Linked DNA regions of Homo sapiens: region 2 is linked to region 1. A link means that fine-mapping ties the variant in region 1 to the expression of a gene that starts in the linked region. Tissue or cell type: whole blood. Region 1 holds a variant in brackets; the other region holds the start of a gene. Each region is shown on its reference strand, or each on the opposite one. Region 1 overlaps CARINH (colitis associated IRF1 antisense regulator of intestinal homeostasis). Region 2 holds the start of LAG3 (lymphocyte activating 3).

The links.
Region 2: it holds the start of LAG3, and the variant in region 1 is fine-mapped to the expression of LAG3 in whole blood (TOPMed, PIP 0.98).

The regions. Positions count from the first base shown.
Region 1 is chr5:132,460,472-132,463,487 of GRCh38, forward strand. The region is part of intron 3 of CARINH (colitis associated IRF1 antisense regulator of intestinal homeostasis); the gene reads left to right. Among named protein-coding and RNA genes, the nearest start is that of IRF1, 29 kb to the right of the region's middle. The variant T/C (reference allele first, on the strand shown) is at 1,415.
Region 2 is chr12:6,771,428-6,773,927 of GRCh38, forward strand. It overlaps LAG3 (lymphocyte activating 3), which reads left to right and starts at 1,093. Exons shown (of 8, transcript NM_002286.6): 1 at 1,093-1,483; 2 at 1,765-1,912; 3 at 2,270-2,500. The coding sequence starts at 1,426. RefSeq lists a silencer at 2,353-2,500.

The DNA of each region.
Region 1 (3,016 bases):
CCTCTCCTTCCACTGAGCCTGCATCCCAGCCTCTCCCCTTTCTTCAGGGACCTCTCCCCAGCAATTACGCCCTTCCATTCTCTCAACCAGGGAATCTTCAAACTCTTCTTCTCCACTGGCTCCTGCTGTGCTCCTGTCTCCATCACCTGTATAATGCTTCCTGCCATCCTGCCTTCCCCGTGGAGTACAGCCATGCTGTCTGCTGCTTACAGCCAAGATTCTGGAAAGAAATGTCTCCTTTTTCCTCGTCATCAACCACTCATTTATTCAGCAAGTGTTTCTTTTACACTTGCCTGTGCTGGGCATGGCAGCAATGCAGCAGTGAACAAAACCATCAGCCCTGCTCTCATGCAGCTTATAATCAAGTAGAGAGACAGACATAAATGATTAATAGATGCTCCTGTAATGGTGGTTGTGAGGTGTGCTGCCACAGCCCAGCCACACACGCCAGTTCCCTTCTCTGCACATGTACATGTCTGCTCATCCTTCCCACCTGAACTCATGTGCCACCTCACTTATGCCCCTTCCCAATGCCGCACCCACACAACAGGGTGTCCCTCTGTGCCCACAGCAGCCCTTGGGTATAACTGTTCCCCACAGAGGCTGAACCCCAAGGGCAGAGTCCAGGCCACACTCACCACGGAGACCCCTGCCTGGCACAGAGCCCAGCCCAGCAGAGATGCTCAGAAGATGAATGAAAGTCCCTGCTGAGATTGATCCAATCTGTTTGTGAACATCTCTGGGGTCCAAGAATTCACGGCTTTCTTTTTCTTTAGAGAGCCTTTTGTTTCTTTTTGCCATTATATACTATATTTGGGTTAGGGCACAACAATGTGAATATACTTAATACTGAACTCTACACTTGAAAATGGTTAAGATGGTAAAGTTTTAAGTTATATGTATTTTGCCACAATTTTTTAAAATGCAGAGCATAGGTACAAAGAAGGAAAAAAAGGGGGCAAGGTCCATTTTATTGAGAAATAAAGAACAAAGGGTTCAATTCAGAGAGGATTGGATTTTAAAACGTAATTTAGATTAGGGAAATGCAAATGAAAACCATAATAAGTAAGATACCACTTCACATCTGTTAGGATGGCTATTTTAAAACAACAAAAACAACCTGAAAATAAGTGTTGGCAAGGATGTGAAGAAATAGATACCCTTGTGCATTGCTATTGGGAACGTAAAATCATGCAGCCTTTGTTGAAAACAATGTGGTGGTTCCTCAAAAACTTAGTTATCATATGATCCCGCAGTTCCACTTCTAGGAATATACCCAAAAGAATTGAAAGCAGGGACTCAAAGTGATATTTGTACACCAGTGTTTGTAGCAGTATTATTCACAATAGCCAAAAGGTGGAAACAACCCAGATGTCCATGACAAGAGGAGTGGATAAACAAAATATGGTGAATA[T/C]GTACAATGGAACATAATTCAGCTTTAAAAAGGAATGAAATTCTGGTACATGTTATAACATAGATGAACCTTAAAAACATTATGCTAAGTGAAATAAGCCAGACACAGAAGGAAAAATACCAGATGATCCCACTTATATGAGGTACCTAGAATAGTGAAATTCATAGAGACAGAAAGTAGAAGGATGGTTGCCAGGGGCTGGAAGGAGGAAGAACAGGGAGATACTGCTTAGTGGATGCAGAGTTTATGTTGAGGGTGATGAAAAAGTTCTGGAGATGGATGGTGGTGATGGCTGCACAACAGTGAGAATGTACTTCATACTATGGAACTCTGCACTTAAAAATGGTTAAAATGGATGTAGACATTTTATGTCTATTTTGCCATAACAAGAAAGTAATTTGGGTGTATTTTAGAGATTTTAGAAAATACTGTAAGCACAAGAGGAAAAAAATTAAAATCATTCGCAATCACCAGGTAGAGACAACGACTGTTGAAAGATCAGTGTGTATCTTTTCATTCTCGTTCTCTCTCTCAAAAAAGTGTGTGTGTGTGTGTGTGTGTGTCTTCAGATGTCACACTGGACTTTCAGGAAAGGTTCCCCTCTCTGCTGCTTCCCTGCTGGAGCCATGGAGAGCAAGTCTATCCCTGTTCCATAGGTCAATCCTTTGAATGATTTCTCATGGCTGAGTTCACTCCCCTGCACCTCCAGGGTTGCACTTCTCTGAAAATACTCATTTATTTTATGTGTCTACTAAAAACATGGCACCCACGACCCAATAATATGTTGGAAGGGGTTGGAGAGAGAAACGCGAGTACCTCTCACACCTTCTCACACACTACACATCTTAGCGATGGCCGAGTGAGCATGTTGGCTCTCTGGACTCCTCAGTCTGTTGGTCTGGGCTGCGCCAGGCTCAGGCTCCCTGCCTCCCCCCCAACCTTGATCCCCTTGCTTCTTGAACCTGATGCTGGGCCTCACATTCTCCGTTGATTCTAGCTCTTAAATCCTGCTTCTCCAGCTTGTCAGGAGGCTGTGCCCTCACACCCCAAAGAGCAGATCTGCCCTCTCCACTGAGAGGGAAGGAGTGAAGGTCCCACAGCCTCTGACCCCTGCTGGGCCCAAGAGAGGAACAGCTGCTTGCTTTATTTCTCGTGGGAGAAGTGTGTCTCCTCTTTGTCTCAGGCACCCCTCTGCCCTGTACAGCAGCAAGTCAGCAGGAATGAGCTGAGCCGCCCAAGTAGTGGCTCCCTCCACTATGGGGGCTCTGTGGTCCTGGGGGCTGTCCTGCCTCCACTGCCATAGGCCTGGCCCCAGAGCATGCTGCAGTGGTCACAACCTGTGGAGGTGCCCCCAGACCCCCATATTTGGGCCCAACTACAGCCTCCTTCCCCAGCTTTGCCACCTGGCTTGGGAGCCAGGGCACCACCAGCTTCACTGGCAGGGAGAGATGAAGAAAGAGGCCATAGCCACGCAAGTGACTGAAGTTCATGTTCGTGCACACCAATTAGAGAGGGACAGCACGTTCATTTACCTCCAAATCCAGCCACAGACACATCGCCCTTTTCTCTTGGCTCTGAGGCCTCCACAGAAGGGTTTTTTAA
Region 2 (2,500 bases), not on the chromosome of region 1:
AGGGAAATCCTGGGTCTCGTGTCATCCCCAGGTCGGCTGTATGTTTCGTCACCTGCCCTCCAACTCTCCCTGGGCTGGGCTGGGGAGCGGGAGTTGTATGACTCTTGTCAGTCTTGGGCCTTCCCTAGTCCCACTGCCTCTGTTTCCCCTGAGTTTGATCTCTGTTAGGAGATTTCTAAGATTTCTGCATTTCTCCATCTCCGCATGGCCCTTGCCTTCTCCTCTTAGTTCGGAACCTCTGGACTGGAGGATGCTTCTGAGGGCATGGGGACCTGAGTTGGAGTGGGGAGGGGTGTTGACTCATCAACAGCATCATTTCTCCCAGGAGACGCCCGTAACTCATCCAAGGTCAGGACTACACACTGTCACGCACACAGGTACACTCACAGCTTTTATCTTCACGCTCCCTAACCTTGGCAAATTGTACAATTTCTTTGAAGCTCAGTTTCCTCATCTGTACAATGGGGAAAAGCATTAGATTTCATGAATTACTATAAGTAAAGTGTCCAATACAGTGCTTAGCACGTAATGAAGCCTCAATACAATGTAGTTATTCTCCATGCCCCACAAAGCTGGCATGCCTAGCCTCAGACCTACCATTTTTTGGGGTGCAGTAAGGCTTCCTGTCCACCATGTTCCCAGGGACATTGTACTGATGGGTGGAAAGGCAGGTCTAAAGGGGTCACGAAGTTCTGGGAGGTTAAGGGAACGAGGAAGGAGATTGAGCAACAAGGAAAGAGCTTGCCAAGAAGGAGGTGTGAATATTGGGACTGAGGAGGCAGCTTAGAGATGGGCAAGGGGGCAGTTCCAGGCAGAAATGGTTCGTGGAGGCAGAAGGTCCCTGGGAGAGGGAGCAGTCTGGAGGGTGGGGCAGGGGCGAGGAGGGGGAGGTGGGGAGACCCAGGACTGAGGAAGTAAACAAGGGGAGCGCCACCACAGAGGTGGAGAGGTGGAGGGTGCTGCTGCTGGGAATCAACCCCCTCAGACTTTCCACTGCGAAGCGAAACCGTAAGCCCTGGGGTGCGGGGGGCGGGCCGGGAGGAGGGGAAGTGGGGAAGGTGGAGGGAAGGCCGGGCACAGGGGTGAAGGCCCAGAGACCAGCAGAACGGCATCCCAGCCACGACGGCCACTTTGCTCTGTCTGCTCTCCGCCACGGCCCTGCTCTGTTCCCTGGGACACCCCCGCCCCCACCTCCTCAGGCTGCCTGATCTGCCCAGCTTTCCAGCTTTCCTCTGGATTCCGGCCTCTGGTCATCCCTCCCCACCCTCTCTCCAAGGCCCTCTCCTGGTCTCCCTTCTTCTAGAACCCCTTCCTCCACCTCCCTCTCTGCAGAACTTCTCCTTTACCCCCCACCCCCCACCACTGCCCCCTTTCCTTTTCTGACCTCCTTTTGGAGGGCTCAGCGCTGCCCAGACCATAGGAGAGATGTGGGAGGCTCAGTTCCTGGGCTTGCTGTTTCTGCAGCCGCTTTGGGTGGCTCCAGGTAAAACGGGGATGGCGGGAGGGTTGACCTCCAGCCCCACAGGAGGGGACCAGCAGGGATCTCTGTGGCCACAAAGGTCCTGAGGTCCTTAGCTCTGTGGATTCTTCTAATCCCTTTTTTGGGCAGTCCTTCCACCCCGAAAGCCTCTCTGGGCAGAGAAGAAACAGAAACCCAAGTTCTTCCTGCACCCTGTTTCTCCCTCGGGAAACACCCAGGCTCCTTCTCTACCCCTGCCTCTCGGCTCACGCCCCCTCCCCTTGGCCTCTCTTTTGCTCACCTAGTGAAGCCTCTCCAGCCAGGGGCTGAGGTCCCGGTGGTGTGGGCCCAGGAGGGGGCTCCTGCCCAGCTCCCCTGCAGCCCCACAATCCCCCTCCAGGATCTCAGCCTTCTGCGAAGAGCAGGGGTCACTTGGCAGCATCAGCCAGACAGGTATGCACCCCAAACTTGGGCAACAGGACCTCCGAATCCAGCACTCAACCCCACACCCGTGCCGGTCCTCTGTCCCCTGCCCTGAGGTGTCACTCCCTCTGAAGCCAGTGACCCAGTCTCCCTGCCCTCGCTTGCACCGTTCCTGCCCTTGCTCTGCAATCAGCGACCCTCACGCCAGCATCCCTTCTCTCCAGAAGTGGATGCGGCCAGTCCAACAGAGGGGTCGGGCGTGAGGGGACGGTTGGTGGTCAAGAGAACTCTTGGGGCGGGCTTTCTCATCCTCAACGGGTGGCTGCCTGCATCCTCCCGGGCTTCCTACCCCTGGAGCTTCTCAACTCCATTCTCTTTCCCGCCCAGTGGCCCGCCCGCTGCCGCCCCCGGCCATCCCCTGGCCCCCGGCCCTCACCCGGCGGCGCCCTCCTCCTGGGGGCCCAGGCCCCGCCGCTACACGGTGCTGAGCGTGGGTCCCGGAGGCCTGCGCAGCGGGAGGCTGCCCCTGCAGCCCCGCGTCCAGCTGGATGAGCGCGGCCGGCAGCGCGGGGACTTCTCGCTATGGCTGCGCCCAGCCCGGCGCGCGGACGCCGGCGA